Regions from separate parts of the Homo sapiens genome. Here region 2 is linked to region 1. Evidence: fine-mapped expression QTL. A gene starts in region 1. The other region holds a variant in brackets. All regions are shown on one strand. Distances are from middle to middle.

Region 1 (5,217 bases):
AAGGAGGCTCAGACCAACTCGGCCTACCCAGGGCGTGTGGCCCTAGAGGACAGGGAGCAAACTCAGGCTCTGAGTCAACAGGGTCAGCTACAAGTTGGTGCCCGTGCATCAAGGTCCCCTTCTGTCTTCTGTCACACTGTGGAGATCACACCCCACTGCTTGTGGGGTACCTCATGTGGGGGTCACTTCCTCCATTTCAGCCTCACGCTGGCAATGGCATCCCCAGTGTGTGCCAGTCCTGGGAACATCGCTGAGCGTGTGTGAGAGAGGCTGTTGCTGCCCTGTTGGACCTGAGGGCCTGGGGCTGGCAAAATCAACATGGACGAGGGCTGTTGGGTGCCATGATGCTGCTTCCCCATCTCAGGCCCCTCAAGCTCTCAGGCATGTGCCACCCAGGGGCTTTGCACTGGCTGTTTCTGAAACCAGGACCCTCCTCCCCCAAATAGCTCATGGTTTATTTTTTCCTCCTCCTCTTCTTTCCATGCTACCCTATCTAAGATTGCCTCTCTCTCTCCAGACAGTGCTTCCTAAACCCCATCTCTTGTCCTCAGCACGGTCCATGCTGGGGCCAGGGCGTCTCCCTTCTGGCCTGTTGCCTGCCCCTCCTCACCACTGCAGTGTAACCCCAGCACGTGGCAGGTGCCCAGAGGGTGAAGGGCTGAGGGGGCTGAGGGGCATTGGCAAGGCAGGGCCGAACTGGTGGGTCCTGGGTTCCGGGGGAGGGTTCAGATGGTTGGGGGTGATTCTCTGTTCTCAGTTGGGGTGGCCCTTGCCTTGTGTAGGTCGTCGCTGAAGCCGCCCAGCTTGCTGCGGCCCTTGATGGAAAAGGAGGGCTGGGAGGCCTTGCCGACGGTATTGGGCCCCATTACCATGGGCAGCATGTACGCAGCGGGGCCTGCAGGGTGGACGTGGAGCCTCAGGCCGGAACAGGGCCCACTGCTCCTTCCCTGGGGCTCTCCCCCAACTCTGGAGATCAGCCGTCGGGCTGCCCCATGTCACACACCCCACCCAGGATCCCCAGGTCCATTTGGCTGAGGATGGTTGGGGCTGCTGCGGACCTGGGGTGCTGTCCACTCGGAATGCCTTTGTCCGGGCAGAGATGGAGTGGCTGGGTGCTGAGTCGAACACGTACTTGGTGGATTTCTCTGGAAAGTAGTCACCTGGACAAGGAGCCAAGGGGGCTGCTGGGACAAGCAGGTGGGTATGCAGCCCAGTTTGGGGGCTCAAGGAGGACTCCCCAACATTCTAGGCGTGGGGCCTCTGGGCTCCAACACAGGTGGTGACCAAGTCGGGTCAGGGGGTGTCCAGGATGGAAATGCTGACTTCAGGGCTGGTGAGACAAAGGCTATTTTTGAGCAGGGAGAGTGGGGTCTGACGTCGGCCTGGCAGAGAAAGGTCCAGGTCGGAGCTGGACTCTTGGGCCAGAGTCTTCTCTGCCCAGGCACGATGGTGACCCCTCAAGAGAGAAAGATGGGACGGGAGGGGCCAGGATGGCTGAGCTCTCCCACACCCTTGCTGACATGAGGTTAGGGGCACCCAGCAGGGAGGGGCAGGCCTGAGGCTGCGCAGGGCAGGAGCCTGAGACAGGGTCACTAACCTGGACCAGGAGTCAGCATGGTCTTGGTTTGGTAGCGCCCCAGGATGGAGTAGGCAGGGCCAAGGTCCTTGCCAGTCCTCAGTATCTTGGGGTTTACATTGTAACGGGGCCCTGGGGAGCAGTTCTCTGCCAGGAGCATGGGGGCCCCACGGAAGCTGTAGGCCGGTGCACGCAGCTTGGTGGGCGTGTGCTTCATGAAGCCTGTGGACGCAATGGGCCCTGAGCAGCCCGGAGCCTGACCTGCCCTTCTCCCCGCTGGGAGTCAGGGATTGAGCCCCAGGCCCTTCCCGGGACCCCCACCTGCCCGCCTGGCTCCTGACCCTCTCCCACAGTCTCTCAGGCTCTTACCTGTTGTTGGTGGAATCAGGTACTTGGGTCCAGGGCTGCTGTAGAGGGCCATGATGGGTCCCCGGGGGCGATGGGGCCTCCAGGTACCCATCCATACCTCCTCCGTCATGGCCAGCTCTGTCCGTAAGTGAGAGGGTTACCAGGTGCTGGGAGGCCCGGCCCTGTCCCATGCCGGCCCCTGATGTCCCCGACCCTGCTCTTGCTGACACTGAAGGGTAAGACCTGCGGAACCTGCTGCAGCATCAGTGGGGATCTCCAGCTGGGAGCCAGGAGTCAGGGACAGTAGGAGCTTTCTGCATGGGTCTGTGAGCTCCTCACCAGCTTAACTGTAACCCAGAGTTGCTGTCCATGCTGGCCCTTAACTCACCACTGTTCTCGGCTCTAAGGGAGCCCTGGGCCGGTTTCTCCTACTTGGAGTGGTCAAAGATGGGGAACTTCTTGATTGAGGCTGAGCTGAGGGGCAGGGAGGGGGCCGCCTGGGAGGGAACTATAACTTCTTCAGTGCAGGGACAGCACTCAGAGCAGCCTAGAGACCCATCCTCATCAGAGACTGTCCTTTCCCCCCTGGCCTTGGTGCCAGGGAGTTCCCGCAAAAGGAGCATGGAGAGAAAGGCCTTCCTCTCTCCTCATGGGCTTACAGAATTGGGGAGAGGTCCCCCACTCTAAACTCTAGAATGTGGCTCTGTGGGATGACAGGTTCTAGATTCTGTCTATGTGACCAAGACAATGGCTTCTGCCTTTGATCCCCTCACCAGATCTCACCACCAGGTCCCCCCAACAGGACACCCCTATAAGTCCCCCTGACCATGTTCCCCTCACCATGTTCCCCTCACCAGGTCCTCCTCACCAGGTCCCCTCACCAAGGCTCCCCACCCATGTCCTCCTCACCAGGTCCCCTCACCAGGTCCCCTCACCAAGGTCCCCCCCATGTCCCCTCACCAGGTCCCCTCACCAAGGTCCCCCCCATGTCCCCTCACCAGGTCCCCTCACCAAGGTCCCCCCCATGTCCCCTCACCAGGTCCCCTCACCAAGGTCCCCCCCATGTCCCCTCACCAGGTCCTCCTCACCAAGGTCCCCCCCATGTCCCCTCACCAGGTCCCCTCACCAAGGTCCCCCCCATGTCCTCCTCACCAGGTCCCCTCACCAAGGTCCCCCTCATGTCCCCTCACCAGGTCCCCTCACCAAGGTCCCCCCCATGTCCCCTCACCAGGTCCTCCTCACCAAGGTCCCCCCCATGTCCCCTCACCAGGTCCCCTCACCAAGGTCCCCCCCTATGTCCCCTCACCAGGTCCCCTCACCAGGTCCCCTCACCAAGGTCCCCCCCATGTCCCCTCACCAGGTCCCCTCACCAAGGTCCCCCCCATGTCCTCCTCACCAGGTCCCCTCACCAAGGTCCCCCCCATGTCCCCTCACCAGGTCCGCTCACCAAGGTCCCCCTATGTCCCCTCACCAGGTCCCCTCACCAAGGTCCCCCCCATGTCCCCTCACCAGGTCCTCCTCACCAGGTTTCCCTAAGTTCCCTCACCAGACCACCCCTCACCAGGCCCCCTCACCATGTTTCTTTCACCAGGTCCCCTCAACCAGGCACCCACCCATGAAGTCCCCCTCACTGGGTCCCCTCACCAGGTCCCCTGTAACCAAGTCCTCCAGGGCCCCCTCCCTAGGGCTCCCTCAGCCAAATGGAAATCCAGGCAGATACCATGTAGGCAGGTGGGACAGAGCACAGAGCCGACAGCACCGCATGGCCCCCTTGCCAGGCTCAGACAGGACAGAGGTGTGGAGAGGAGGGCCGGGGCAGTGAAGTGTCAGGGCTCAGCACCCAGGGTGGCCAAGGATGGGGCGGTTCCACTCAGCTGTGCCCCCAGAAGAGACCATAGATTGGGCAGCTGAAATGCTGGAAGGTTCTGGCTGTGGGAGAGTCTGGGATCCAGGGTCAGGATCAGGGTCTGTGCTGGTTGTGGTGGGTGTGAGTCAGTGTGGGCGCTGGGGCTGCCCTGGCTGACCTCAGAGGCTGCTCACCTGCGGCTCCCAACCCCCTTGGACATGGGTGTACCTTTTTCTTGGCCTTGTCAGGGGTCCTCTTGGGGCTCGACACCAGCTTTCAGATGCTGAGCACCCCCGCCCTGACCTAGCCCATGGGCGACATGGGGTCTGTGTCCACCCAGTCCTGGACACTTCCTCTTTCTGGGGCTCCCACCTCATACCGCTGCCTCTGCCGCCCGTCTCCCTCCGGACGCCCCCTCCAGACGCCCCCTCCGGACGACCACGCAGTGTTGTCTGGCTCTGTGCTCTGTCCACCTGCCTACGTGGCGTCTGCCTGGATTTCCATTTTGGGTCTTGCCTGTGGTGTGCCTGCTCCTGTGTGGACCCTGTGTGTACCTCTGTGGGGACTTTCACACGTGTGTTCCTTGAGTGGGATCCTCTGTATGTGGGTCTGTGTGTGTGGCTGTGGCCCTGTGTTCCTGATGTCCCCATTTGTGTGTACCTCTGTGGGGACTTTCACACGTGTGTTCCTTGAGTGGGATCCTCTGTATGTGGGTCTGTGTGTGTGGCTGTGGCCCTGTGTTCCTGATGTCCCCATTTGTGTGTCCCTCTGTGGGGGACTTTCGCACGTGTGCTCCTTGAGTAGGATCCTCTGTATGTGGGTCTGTGTGTGTGGCTGTGGCCCTGTGTTCCTGATGTCCCCATTTGTGTGTCCCTCTGTGGGGACTTTCGCACGTGTGCTCCTTGAGTGGGATCCTCTGTATGTGGGTCTGTGTGTGTGGCTGTGGCCCCGAGTGTGTTCCTGATGTCCCCATTTGTGTGCCCCTCTGTGGGGGCAGAGACAGGAGCCTGAGCTGCGGAAGAGGCTTTATTGATTAAACGGTTTGAGGATACATTTCCATGTGGGAGGTGGTAGTGGGCGTTGTGTCCACGGCTGCTTGTGTGGCAGGTCCTATGGCTGAGCCATGTCTGAGGTCCACTTAGGCACCGTCCTGACTGCCCAGCACTTGCACCTGGAAGGCAGACACATGTGGACTAAGAGGGCTGTGCTCAATAAGTGGAGAGCCACAGCTCCATCAGGCAAGCAAGGCCCTCAGTGGGGGGGGGTCTGGCATATTGCTGCCTATCTCCTCCCAGCAGCTGGGAGGTGTGTGTGCACATGTGATGGTGTGCACACATGTATGTGTGTGCATATCCCAGTGTGAGCATGTGGGTGTGAACGTGTTTATACATGTGTGCACGCAGTGTACATTTCATGTCTGCACCTGTGTTTGGATCTCTGTGTATGT
Region 2 (5,217 bases), 24 kb before region 1:
TTTGTTAGGAGATGATTGATGTTATGAGAAAGATAACAAGTAGGATAGAAAGGCTAGAAGGGTTGGGAACCAGCTGCAGTGTCAAGTCAGGCAGGTGGAGTTGGATCTAAGAGTTTACCGAGGTGAGGAGGGTCTGGCAGGGGACACTGCACAGGTGACAAGCAGCAAGGAGGGTGGGGCGAAGTCAGCATTGATGGCCACGGGGCTGGAGCAGAGAAGAAGGTGGGGCACAAGTGTCATCTCATGGGAGGCTGGCGCCACCTCAGAAGGTGAATGGGTTCAGCTTGGGTTCCAGGCCAGAGTCTGAAGTTGAGAGGACTCCGTTGGGTGCTGGGCTGTGAGCCCACCATGGGGGCAAGACTGGGAGCAGCAGACCCAGCAGGGCCCTTGTAGGTAATCACCGGCTGGCACTGGCTGGGGGCCAGGTAAAGCCAGCAGAGGCTGAGGGGTGCTGGAGTCTGGGTGTGTGTGAACGCAGAGTGGGTACGCTGGCACAGTGCATGGGAGGCCGTGGATTCCCAAGGACCCCAGGGCTGTGGCTGGAGCAGCTGGAAAGACGGAGCCGCCGCTTCCTGAGATGGAGAAGCCTGGTAGGTGGGTTTGGGGGAGCTCAGGAACTCAGCCTTGTTTCCACGGATTTGAGGATGTGCTGCGGACTGGAGGTGTTGAGCAGGTGGACATGAGTCTGGAGTCCAGGAAGGCCCAGAGGCAGGAGCTGGGGTGCTGGAGTGAGCAGACAGGAGAGCCCAGGGTGTGGACAGACATGAGAATGCCATGCTAGGCCTAGGATGGAGGGACAGACACAGGAGGAGCAGTCAGAGGGGCCATGGTGGTCAGCACAGTGTGGGCTGAGACCAGCTGACCGTGCTGGCCACCAGGTGTGGACACTTGGGCCACCAGCCATCTTTATTGTTGAAGTGAAATGAAAATGGCCTTTTTCCTGATTATAAGTGTATCATGTGTGTCTTTGAAAAGATTCGTACATTATATAAAGATATAAAGCAAAGGATCAACTTTTTAATCCCACCAACTGTTAGCATTTTATTCTGTGTCCTCTCAGCTTTCTTTTTTTTGTACAAATGCATACGTACAGATGGTAATTTTAAACTAAAAGTTGGACAGCACTGTACATTCTATTCTGCAGCCTGCTGTTTTCACGTAACAATGTGAGTCCATGGAGATGTGCTGCGTTGTTAATGCCAACAGTTTCCCTTACACGGATATGAGGTCCCAACTGAGAAACCCATGTCTGTAAGGCTGGTGCCATCATGAACTGAATGAGCTGGTGTCACGCACAGACTCTATCTCATGTGCTTTGTGGACGAAATGTTAATGTGTTTGACTGTGGAGTACCACTCCAGATCCCCTTTAGGTGTGACATAACGTGGGATGTAAACCATATGATCTTTTCTAAAATCTCAAAAATTCTGAAACATATTCAGCCACAAGAGCTTTAACATAGATTTTGTGGATTTAATACAAAATTTATGTAAGCAATTTCTTACTGATGGACAATGATAATAAATAGTATATAATTTTTACATTAAAAGTAATGCTGGGCCAGGCACCGTGGCTCACACCTGTTATCCCAGCACTCTGGGAGGCCAAGGCAGGAAGATTGCCTGAAGCTAGGCATTTGAGACCAGCCTGGGCAGTATAGTCAGACCTCGTCTCTACAAAAAATAAAAAGATAGCCAGGCATGGTCTGTGTAGTTGCAGCTATTTGAGAGGCTGAGGAAGGAGGATTGCTTGAGCCCAGGAATTTGAGGTTATAGTGAACTATGATCATGCCACTGCATTCCAGCCTGGGTAACAGAATGAGATCCCGTGCTGTAGTGAATATCCCTGTGTATCATCCTTATCTACTCATGCAAGTACTCCTGAAGGGTAAATGCTGTAGTGAATATCCCTGTGTATCATCCTTATCTACCCATGCAAGTACTCTGGAAGGGTAAATGCTGATAAATACTGAGAACTTGCCTTCCGGTGAATATCCCTGTGTGTCATCCTTATCTACCCATGCAAGTACTCCTGAAGGGTAAATGCTGTAGTGAATATCCCTGTGTATCATCCTTATCTACCCATGCAAGTACTCTGGAAGGGTAAATGCTGATAAATACTGAGAACTTGCCTTCCGGTGAATATCCCTGTGTGTCATCCTTATCTACCCATGCAAGTACTCCTGAAGGGTAAATGCTGTGGTGAATATCCCTGTGTATCATCCTTATCTACCCATGCAAGAACTCCTGAAGGGTAAATGCTGATAAATATTGAGAACTTGCCTTCCAGAAAGATGTAACAATTACACTGCCACAAACTGTGTTTTTATGTAGCCATTTTATCACATCCTCACCAAAACCAAAATCACACAAATCAAATTGGTTAAAAAATGCATGTGTGTGTGTGGAGGGGGGTGCGGATTTTGCCTTTCTGTAGTAAAGAATGAAGTTCATCTTTTCATGTTTATTGCCAGTTGTGTTTCTTCTCTTTGGATTGTATATTTGTACCTCTTGACCATTTTTCATTGGGTCATTATAAATTAGCAATATAAATTAGTTTTAATTTTAGTATAAATTAAATAATATAATTACATTTTAATGTTAATATAAACTTCTTTCTTTTTTTTTTTTTTTTTTTTGAGACAGAGTCTTGCTCTGTCTCCCAGGCTGGAGGTTCAGTGGCGCGATCTCGGCTCACTGCAACCTCCACCTCCCAGGCTCAAGCCATTCTCCTGCCTCAACCTCCCGAGTAGCTCGGATTATAGGTGCGTGCCACCACGCCCAGCTAAGTTTTGTATTTTTAGTAGAGACGTGGTTTCACTATGTTGGCCAGGCTGGTCTTGAACTCCTGACCTCAGCTGATCTGCCCGCCTCGGCCTCCCAAAGTGCTGGGATTATAGGTGTGAACCACCATGCCCAGCTGTTAATATAAATTTCATTATAAATTAGCATTATAAATTAGTTCATAAATTATATGTTTATAAATGAGTTTATCAATTAGC[A/C]ATATAAACTATTGTCATATGTTGTAAATATTTTTGCAGTTTATGATGATGAGAGGTTTTTAAAAATTTTAAATTTTCTACATAGTAGTTTTATGTAGATACCGAGATAATAGTATTTACATAGTCAGATCTGTCATTTTCCTTTGCCTTATCTGACTTCAGTTTTTACGCCTAGAACGTTCTTCCCTATCCTTACTTGTAAATCCTTAGTTTTCTTCAAGAACTGTTTTGTTTACATTGAAACCTTTAATCCATTTGAATTTTTTTCAGTGGGAGGTAGGAATGGAGTATTTTCCTCCCAGATAATGAGCCAGTTTTAATGCCATTTATTAATGTATCCATTTTTTTACCTTGTTCCTCTTAAAAGAAGCTTTGAGAGCTGTATGAAGAAGCCTGATGGCACCGAGCTAGGCCTCTCTAGAGGCTGGGTGGGGAAGACCATGGAGAGACGTAACAGTAACTCCTGCTCGGGGGCACCAGCTCGTCTGGGTGCCCGATGCTGGTGGTGGCTGTCAGAGCAAGCAGGGCTAGCCAGAGGAGATGGACGAGTCTGTGCTGTTGTCCCTCTGCGTCATGCTGGGAGACAGCGAGGTGGGGAGGACAGGGAGAACAGAACGTGCTCACAAAGAGGAGGCAGGAAGGTTGGATCCCTGATGAGCCTTGGAACGGAGGTGGGGAAAAGCAAGGATGTGTGGAAACAGCAAGAAGTGGGAGAGAGAGAGAGAGGCGGAGGGGAGAAAACCGTCACGGAGGCCAAGCGGCAGGAGCTCAGCTGAAGAAATGAGATTGGTGGTGGGTTTTCCCTATATCGCAGGCTCTGACTGCCAATCTGCTGCTCCTCCAAGGCCTCGGTGGCTGTGGCATGAAACATCCTGAGGAGCTTGTAAAGTGGACACTGTGCCCCTCACGTTTGGCCCATTTTTCAGGTGGAGCCTTTTGCCAGCTTGACCGAGGCCGTGCGGAGCTCAGTTCCCCGACTGCTCATCAACCGGGACTTGGTGGGGCCCTTGGCTTGGCATCCTCGCAGCAGGGACGTGGCCCAGCTGGGGGACGTGGTTCACGGCGTGGAAAGCCTAGTGGAGCTTCTGGGCTGGACAGAAGAGATGCGGGACCTTGTGCAGCGGGAAACTGGGAAGGTACAGACTGCTGAGGAGGACCATCCAAGGGGCTGCCCTTCTCACTGCTCTAGGGTATGGTCCACCTGATATGGAGCCCCGTTGGTTAACACAGTAACAGTAATAGCTGATGATGCTGTGAATCCTGCACCAGGCACTACCTGGACCTGACTGGGTGTTACTTTCAATACCTCCATTTAGAGATGAGGAAACAGATGCTAACAGGCCAAGCAGGGACACGGTCCAGACACTCAGGGCTGATGAGTCTGTATTCTTAACAGACTATAGGCGTTACCTTCACTCCCTAAAATAAAGCAGCCAACAGTGTCCCTCTAAGGCCTGGTATGTGATTCTAAGATGATACGGGTTAAAGAACTTTGAGAAGCTAAAGTTCTCTGCATCTATGTGGGATGAAGGCTACATGAGTGATGCTTTTCGGAAGTAATTGGTATGAGAGCCATTGATCAATTATAATCCGCTGAGGAAAGCCAAAGAGCCTTGATGCTTTCTAAGAGATTTCAAACCGCCTATAAACAAGTGAAGTTACAGAAAATGCAGTTTCCCATAAGAATCATGTAGCATGTGTAGCCTTGATATTAAGGGTTTTCAATGGGAGGTGGTAGCATTAAGCATTTAAAGTCCAGTGTCATGATTACAGGCAGGTGTAACACTGTCCAAAGGGGATTTCACCAGTGTATTAGTCTGTTCTCTGGCTGCTCATAAAGGCATACCTGAGACTGGGTAATTTATAAAGGAAAGAGGTTTAATGGACTCACAGTTCCATATGGCTGTGGGGGCCTCACAATCATAGTGGAAGGCAAAGCAGGAGCAAAGTACTGTCTTACAAGGTGGCAGGCAAGAGGACGTGTGCGGGGGAACTGCCCTTTATAAAACTATCAGATCTTGTGAGACTTATTCACTATCAGAAGAAGAGTGTGGGAAAGACCCGCCCCCATGATTCAGTTACTTCCACTTGGCCCCACCCTTGACACATGGGGATGATTACAATTCAAGGTGAGATTTGGGTGGGGACACAGCCAAACCATATCAACTACAATATATCACAGTTGATGCTCCTCTTGCCTTCCAAGGCAGATGTCT

What was found. PIP is the estimated chance that this variant, and not a neighbour inherited with it, causes the effect. A credible set is the group of variants that fine-mapping cannot tell apart.
Region 2: its variant is the best candidate, but not a certain one, in a credible set for the expression of CIMAP1A in whole blood (INTERVAL, PIP 0.70).

What each region holds. Positions count from the first base shown.
Region 1 is chr11:194,142-199,358 of GRCh38, reverse strand. CIMAP1A (ciliary microtubule associated protein 1A) reads right to left here and starts at 2,598. Exons shown (of 7, transcript NM_053280.5): 1 at 2,313-2,598; 2 at 1,946-2,062; 3 at 1,598-1,798; 4 at 1,059-1,160; 5 at 774-895. The coding sequence starts at 2,054. It overlaps SCGB1C1 (secretoglobin family 1C member 1), which reads right to left. Exons shown (of 3, transcript NM_145651.3): 3 at 4,784-4,941. The coding sequence ends at 4,909.
Region 2 is chr11:217,752-222,968 of GRCh38, reverse strand. SIRT3 (sirtuin 3) reads left to right here. Exons shown (of 7, transcript NM_012239.6): 6 at 3,928-4,137. Among named protein-coding and RNA genes, the nearest start is that of MIR6743, 11 kb to the right of the region's middle. The variant A/C (reference allele first, on the strand shown) is at 3,002.